2 separate regions of the Homo sapiens genome follow, and region 1 is reported to be linked to region 2. Evidence: microRNA targets listed by miRTarBase, many of them from high-throughput screens and not tested one by one. Region 2 holds a microRNA gene; the other region holds the end of a gene's coding sequence.
What was found. The annotated mature microRNA hsa-miR-4472 reads GGUGGGGGGUGUUGUUUU and lies in region 2 at 2,651-2,668, opposite strand. An mRNA with a match to its seed (bases 2 to 7 or 8) in the 3' UTR can be bound and repressed. Matches are read on the target gene's strand: a 7mer-m8 pairs with bases 2 to 8, a 7mer-A1 pairs with bases 2 to 7 and ends in A, and an 8mer does both.

Region 1 (4,105 bases), not on the chromosome of region 2:
GTAAAGTTTTGGTTCTCTCCAAATAAAAATGGCCTGGTCCAAAATGGGCTTCCTTAGCCCTGGGCTGAGACCTCAGGCCACCTGACCCGGCTGTGAATGGATGAGAGGGGTGGGGACGGAAGTCAGAGTCAGGATTCCTTAACACCTTTCCTTCAGATGAAATCCACGATGGGATGAACCTGGAGCTTTATTATCAATAGATGAGAATCCTCATCTTCCTGCCCCGCTTTCCTCTCCCATCCTCATCCCCCACACTGGGATAGATGCTTGTTTGTAAAAACTCACCTTAATAAAGACTTAGATGTTGCTTTGTTGTTGTCTCTGTATGACAGCTGTCTAGTGATGGGTGGATCAGTCGCTGTTTGGTCATCACTGCACCATCAGCATGCAGCTGCTAAAATAAGAGCTCTGATCAACTGGATCCATGAGGGCAGAGTAGACCAGCAGGCTGGGAGTCTGTGTGGGAGCCCAGAGAGAGCTCTGGGGTTTGCTGTGGGTGTCTGAAGGTCAAGAGACTCTGGGATTATTGTCACCCTAATAAACCAAAGAACCTCCGGCTAATGACAGTAGATGTAATTGTTAGGAATTCAGATTCTGAAATCACACAGACCATGTGTGGAATGTCAGCTCTGCCACCAAGCAGCTGAGTGACACTAGGCAAAATTTTTTAACCTCTGTAAGCCTTTACTTCCTTATCCACTGGAAATAATTGCGTTTACTTCATGTCTGCTTTCAATCGGCATATTGTGAGGAGGTATAAATGAGTTTAAAGCATGTTTAAACATCCACAGTTCCTGGCATTTTTTTTTTTTCTTTTTTTGAGACAGGATCTTGCTCTGTCACCCAGGCTGGAATGCAGTGGTATGTTCATAGCCCACTGCAGCCCTGAACTGGACTCAACACAGTCCTCCTGCATCAGCCTCCCAAGTAGCTGGGCAGTGTGTACCACCACGCCAGCTAATTTTAAAATTATTATTATTATTTATTTTATTTGAGACAGAGTCTCGCTCTGTCACCCAGGCTGGAGTGCAGTGGCACGATCTCAGCTCACTGCAACCTCTGCCTCCTGGGTTCAAGCAATTCTCCTGCCTCACCTGAGGCAGGAGACTGGGACTACAGGCGTGCCCCATGACACCAGTTAATTTTTGTATTTTTAGTAGAGATGGGGTTTCACCATGTTGGCCAGGCTGGTCTCAAACTGCTGACCTCAAGTGGTCCACCCTCCTCGGCCTCCCAAAGTGCTGGGATTACAGGCGTGAGCCACCGCGTCTGGCATTTTGAAATTTTTTGTACAGACAGGGTCTCCCCTATGTTGCCCAAAATAGTCTTGAACTCCTGACCTCAGGTGATCCTCCAGCCTTGGCCTCCCAAAGTACTGAGATTATAGGCACAAGCCATCATGCCTGGCCCTAGCACTTCTTTTCAAGACAAAACGTGATAGTAGACAGTGAGGCAGTGTGGCACTATAAGTGTGGCTACATGATCCCAGCCTCAAGAGTCAGACCGACTAGATTTGAATTTTGATTGATCCTTAGCAGTGGGATTTCAGCCTCTGCGACCCTCAGTTTCATCCTCTAAAAATGAGCACTACAGTGGCACCCACATCTCAATGAGACCACGCAATTAGAATAGCAGGATGCCTGGCACATAATGTTATTTGCTGTATTCTTCCTCTAGGTGTGAGTAGACAGGAGACCAACTGTCCCTCTGTTCCCCTGGCCACAGTTCTTTGTGTCAACCTTGCTCCTGTCCTGTTTTATTTTTTAAATTAAAAAAATTTTTTTTTTGAGATGGAGTTTCACACTTGTTGCCCAGGCTGGAGTGCAATGGCATGATCTCAGCTCACTGTAAACCCCGCCTCCTGGGTTCATGTGATTTTTTTGCCTCAGCCTCCTGAGTAGCTGGAATTACAGGTGCATGCCACCACACCCAGCTAATTTTTTTTAGTAGAGACAGGGTTTCACCATGTTACCCATGATGGTCTTGATTTCCTGACTTCATGATCCGTTCACCTCAGCTTCCCAAATTGCTGGGATTACAGGTGTCAGCCACTGCGCCCGGCCCTGAATTTCTTATTTCTTATACCACTCCTCCCACCAGTGGTGGGCATTAATACATTTGAGTGACTCTAGAAACTTTCTGGAATAACCTAGAGTTTTTATCATACGGGGATAATTATATGTCCCGTAATATTTATATGACATTCCATAGTTTGCTTTTCTGTGCTTTTTTTTAATTATTATTTTTTATTATTATTTTTTGAGATGGAGTTTTGCTCTTTTTGCCCAGGCTAGAGTGCAATGGTGCAATCTCGGCTCACTGCAACCTCTGCCTCCCGGGTTCAAGCGATTCTCCTGCCTCAGCCTCCCAAGTAGCTGGGACTACAGGCACGAGCCACCACACCTGGCTAATTTTTTGTATTTCCAGCAGAGACAAGGTTTCACCATGTTGGCCAGGCTGGTCTCAAACACCTGAGCTCAAGTGATCCGCCCGCCTCAGCCTCCCAAGGTGCTGGGATTATAGGTGTGAGCCGTTGGGCCAGCCATGATTTAGCAATTTTGAAACTACTTTTGTGTGTGTGGGTGTGGGCACATGGGCCCATGTAATACACACAAACAGGGTTGAACAAATAAGTAAACTTGTAGATAATGAGAGCTGGGTGTCTCACTGTGGAGAAGGAAGTTACAAATAAAACAGGAGATGGGAATGCTTAAAATGAACCTTGTAGGACTGGATTTGGAGGCATCAGTCTGAATTCATGGTTTTCGTTTAACAGATATATTGATACATATAGATGTGTGTATACATATGTATATTTCCTTGCTCTATCCACTTAGAGGGACCAGAAACAGTGACACTCCAGGAACAGTGAGCACCCATCCTGGAACATAAAAACACTAGTGGGAAAACAGGATTGGGGGGAATTTGTGGTTTAGTTAATAGTATTATATTGATATTGGTTTCTTAGTGTTGATAATTATATTATAGCAGGGTTTCTAAGCTTTGGCATTGTTGACTTTTTTGGGTTGGATTTTTTTTTTTTTTTTTTTTTTTTGAGACAGGCTGGAGTGCAGTGGCACGATCTTGGCTCACTGAAAGCTCCACTCCAGGGGTTCAAGCAATTCTCCGCCTCAGCCTCCCGAGTAGCTGGGATTACATGCGCCCGCCACCACACCTAATTTTCGTATTTTTAGTAGAGATGGGTTTTCACCATCTTGGCCAGGCTGGTCTTGAACTCCTGACCTCTTGATCCACCCACCTTGGCCTCCCAAAGTGGTGGGATTACAGGCGTGAGCCACCGCACCCAGCCTTTTATTTTTATTTATTTATTTATTTTTTGAGACAGAGTCTCCCTCTGTCACCCAGGCTAGAGTGCTGTGGCAAGATTATGGCTAATTGCAGCCTCTTAACTCCTAGACTCAAGAGATCCTCCCACCTCAGCCTCCCAAGTAGCTGGGATTACAGGCACGTGCCACCACACCCAGTGAATTATTTTTGTAGAGATAGGGTCTTGCCATGTTGCCCAGGCTGGTCCCCAACTCTGGGCTCAAGCGATCCTCCTGCCTTGGGCTCCCAAAGCCCTGGATTACAGGTGTGAGCCACCACACTCAGCCCTTGGATTGGATAATTCTTTTGGTGGGGGCTGTGCCTTGAAGGATGTTAGCAGCATCCTTGGCATCTAATACTAAATGCCAGTAGCCAGTAGTATCTCCTGTTCCAAAATGTCTGAAGGTGTTGTAACAACCAAAAATGTATCAAGATGTTGCCAAATGTCCCTTGGGAAACAAAATCGCTACTGGTTGAGAATTCTGTTCTATTGTTTATTTAAGACGCTAATATTAGGGAAGTTTGGGTGAAGGGTACATGAAAACCCTACTGTTTTTGTAACTGCCCATGTCTAAAATTATCTTTATAAAAAGTATCTTTTTAATATTATGCTAATACTTGTAAAAAATGTTCTATTAAAACTTAAACTTTTTTTGTTTTTTGAGATGGAGTCTCGCTCTGTCACCTACGCTGGAGTGCAGTGGTGCGATCTCGGCTCACTGCAACCTCCGCCTTCCAGGTTCAAGTAATTCTCCTGTCTCAACCACCCGAGTAGCTG
Region 2 (4,214 bases):
CCCTGGTGTCTGGCAAGGTCTCGTACCTTCCCCGGGTTGCTGATCCCGGGGAATGCTCCTGCTTCTGGCGACACTTGTTGCCTTGTCTTACACAGAACCCCAAACCCAAAGACGCCCATGAGAGACACAAGCTCATTGCCATGGTGGGTTGTGGTGGGTTGAGGCAGGAGGCGTCGCTGGCACCAGCTGTGTGCTGCTGGCTGAGGCCTCACCGGGATCTGCTTCAGTACCCGAAGCTTCACCCTCAGACACACCTCTTGGTGAGGACAGCTCCTGAAGGCCCCCATGGCATGCGGGTCCCACATAGAACAGGTGGCCGCCCGTCTGCAGGAGGCCTGTGCAGGGTTTTCTCTACCTGGCCCAGTGGAGTTGCTTCCAGAGCAACTCAGCACCTCAGAGCTGCTCATCCTGCTTTAACAAGTGGGGAAACTGAGGCTTGGGAGTGAGAATTGCCCCAAGGCCTCACGGCTGGCAAGTGGCAGAGCTGGGGTGGGATCATCCCACCCTTGGACATGAAGTCTGGTTCTTTCCTCTGTAAAGGGGTGCAGTGTCAACTGCTGTCTGCATGGAAGTAGAGTCTGGATGCAATGGCCGCGGGGCTGGGGGGGACTCAGGTGAGGGGATACACTGGCTGGTGGGGGGGTGCCCAGGTGAGGGGATGCACTGGCTGGTGGTGGGGTGCCCAGGTGAGGAGATGCACTGGCCACAGTGGGACTCAGGTGAGGGGATGAACTGGCTGGTGCTGGGGGGTACTCAGATGAAGGGATGCACTGGCCCGGCCAGCTCAGGGCCCTCAGGTGAGCGGCCGCCCAGGCCTTCACACTTTGGGAGTGGCTGTTCCTTGGCCAAGGGGAATTCTCCTATTGAATCAGCCGTGAGTGCTCCTGTAGAATTGCGGACCCTGTGAGAGAATGTTTTTATCCAGAACAAATTGAGAGGCTCCCCACCACGTGCCTTTCCAGTCACTTCTCCCATTTCAGCCTCAGTTTCCCTCCCTGTAAAACGGGGCTGTTGGAAGGACGAGGGAGACCTGGGCCCGGAGCGGTGGTCGTGGTGGCTGCCCACGCTGTCTTCTCTGCGTGCACCTCCTCTCTGGAGGCCAGGCCCAGGGTCCTGCCTTCCTCCTCCTCCTTCCTCCTCCAACAGGGAGACTCCGCAGCGCCAGGCCGTGCCTCCTCCCAGGAGTTTCGTTCTTGTTCACTGTGGTACAAATGTCAGGGAAGAATTTAAATGAGGGAAACCGTCTCAGAGAGTGTGTTCTGGCAGGATTTCAGGACACTTGTAATTAAGGGTGCAGCGAGGAGGGACCGACCCCACAGCGAAGGGAGGGCTGGCGCCGGCAGGCGGGGCCCTCAGCTGCCTCTGCTTCCTCTCGGTGCCACCGTGACCCCAGCCTCCGGTCTGCGGCTGAGCTGCCCCTCTGAGCTCTGGAGCGGAAGTGGGGGTCTGATGGAGGGGGCTGGCCACGCAGTCCCCTCAGACCCTGCCCATCACTTGCCCCTCCCTGACCCCTCCAGACCCCCCTTGGGGTCTCTCTAGGCAGCCCTGCTAGAGGGGCCCACCTGTGCGCAGCCTTTGGCCATGGCCTCTGCTTGGCGGACCTGAATTCTGGAGCCCCTCCCACCCTGCTCCGGAGCGGTCGCCAGCGCCCCGGGCCCCTGTCCCTCCAGTGACAGCGGCTGTCTCTTCAGGGTCAGAGGGTCGGGCCCCCTACCTGCAGCAGCCTGTTCTCCCCAGGCCCAGGGGCAGCCTTGGAGGGGCATGGAGACCCAGCTCCGGAAACCCTGGGGGCCGGGAATGGGAAGGGGCAGGCCGGGAAAGGGATGTGGACATCTATTTAGCGCTTACTGCATGCTGCCCTGTGTTTGGCACGCATCGTCTCATTAATCCCTCAGTCTTGGGCGTGGCTCCTAGTCAACCCATCTTACAGGGGAGAAAATGGAGGCCCAGAGGGGCTTCAGGTACTGGTCCAAGGACACTCAGAGGCTGGGCAGGGTGGAAGGTCACTGACTGAATGCCTACTGTGTGCAAGGTTCTTCTGCTCTGGTTCATCGTTGGAGTCTGGCTCTGTCCCGGGGCTCAGGTGTGGAGCTTGCGGTCTTCCTCCAGCTCGTTCAGGGGCTGTGGTGAGTTTTGTGGTTTGGGGGTGGCTGGATGCTAGCCTCAATCTCGAGGGGCTCATGGTCTAGAGTGGATGACCGGCTGCCATAACACCCTGTGGGGATAGAAGTCAGGGAGGAGCCCAGGGTTCTAGGGTGTTCGTGGAGCAGAGAAGAGGGCCCGGCAGGCTGCCTGGAGGAGGTGAGCTCTGAGCAGAGTCCTGGAAGACCACAGGGACTGTGGGTAGAATGTTTATGGGTGTGCAGGGAGTGGGGAAAAGGACGGGGGCAGGGAGCCCGTGTTGGGGCCTGACCAGGGCTCCACCGCAGCAATTATGAGCAGCCGGGATTGGAATTCTGGACGGTCGCCTTCCAAAATCCCCCAGGTGCCGCAGCCCCACCTTCCAAAGAAGGAAATGAGAATCCGAGAAGGGCCGGGATTTGTCCAGATCAGGGACAGATCTGACCCGAGTTAAGATCTGAGTTGAGGCTCAAGGCTCTCCCTTGTGAAAATTAAATGAGATTTAAACCAACTCAGCCTTAAAAAAACAAAAACAACACCCCCCACCCTGCCCCTGAGCTGTCTTCAGCCCCATTAGGGAGAGTGAGAGAGCAAGGGTCTGCCAGTGAGGAGATGGGGCTCCGTGAATGTAATTAATCACTTTTCAATTAGTATTCAGGAGCTTTTGTCTGAGGACTTGAAGCAGGTTAGTTCCAGATTGCAGCGCCAGGGTTTTCGGATGCATTTTTATAAATGTTGTGAGCCGAAATAGAACGCTGGGAGCTGAGCAGGCAGCCCCAACCAAAGGGAACAGAAATGAAGCCCCACAATGAGAGAAGTGATTGGGAACGGGGGCGTCTCGCCTGACACTCTGCAAATTCCTGAGCCGCAGTGCAGGAAGGGCTGGGCCTGCAGCCTGGGAAGACTCTGGGATTCAGTCGGTGCTCCATAAACGCTCCTGGAGTGCTGAATGCTCCCCACAGGGAGATGGGTAGGGTATTCTTGGCGGCTCTCAGGGAAGGTTTGGGATTTCGGAAAGGCTGTTCTGAGGGTGCGGGAGCTGGTGGTCCCTGGCTGTCAACCACGTGCCAGGAACTGTGTGGGGTGATATTGACCACATCTCTTAAATCTCCAAGGATGGAGGGTCCCGTGAGTACCAGAGACGCAGGCACTGCTATCCCATTTCACAGATGGCAGGCTCAGGGTCCGGCGCCCTTCAGGGAGGGAGAGTTGATCCTCGGTGAGAAAGAGCATCCGGTGAGTGCCAGGCAGTGGGTCTGGCTGGAGGACAAGTGCCTGCCGGGAATCGGGGGCCACACACGTTCCACTCTATCCAGCTGGCTGTGAGATCCTGGGGACCTCCCCTGGCCTCTCTGGGCCTGGGCCTGTAACATGGGAGTAGCTAGGGGCCCCTGGAAGCACCAGAGCCAGAGCAGGTGCAGGGATCACCCATAGCCTCGCCCTGCAGAGCGAGCTCCCTGTGTCCAGGCATCCCTGCAGGTGCTGGGTGGCACTCTGCTGCCCGAGAGGACAGAAGCACTGCTTGGGTGGCACTCTGCTGTTGGAGGGGACAGAAGCACTGCCCAGGTGGCACTCTGGGCCAGGTCATGTCAAGAATCCCTCTCTGTCCTGAGACTCAGCTTCTCCAGGCATGATGCAAAAGGACAAACAAATAAGATGCACCCTCCACCCTGACCCCTGCGGATGGTTTCTCCACCCGTAGCCACCCCAGCTCCCCCTAGCCAGGTGGTCTGTCTGATACCACAGGGCCCCAGCACCAGGCTGGGGCTGTTTCTGTTCTTTTCCAGTGGTCGGGTAGCTGGGCCTGTGAGTTCAGGGGACGATGGCCATGGGGGATGTCATGGACTGAATTGTGTTCCCCAAGTTCACATGTTGAAGTCATAGCTCCCCCTAACTCAGAATGGGATGTTATTTGGAAATAGGGTCATTACAGATGTAATGAGTTCGGATGAGGTCACTAGGGTGGGCTCTAACCTAGTGTGACTGTGTTCTTATAAAAAAGGGCAATTTGGGGACAGGCATGTATGTAGAGAGATGCCATGGGAAGATGGAGGCAGAGGTAGGGGTGAGGCTTCCACGAGCTACCGAGTGAC

Region 1: the mRNA of UBL5 is a reported target of hsa-miR-4472. Seed matches in the 3' UTR shown: 8mer at 247-254.

The regions. Positions count from the first base shown.
Region 1 is chr19:9,829,809-9,833,913 of GRCh38, forward strand. It overlaps UBL5 (ubiquitin like 5), which reads left to right. Exons shown (of 5, transcript NM_001048241.3): 5 at 157-307. The coding sequence ends at 200. Among named protein-coding and RNA genes, the nearest start is that of PIN1-DT, 3.2 kb to the right of the region's middle.
Region 2 is chr8:142,174,850-142,179,063 of GRCh38, reverse strand. MIR4472-1 (microRNA 4472-1) reads right to left here and starts at 2,725; the gene lies at 2,646-2,725. RefSeq lists an enhancer at 4,057-4,214.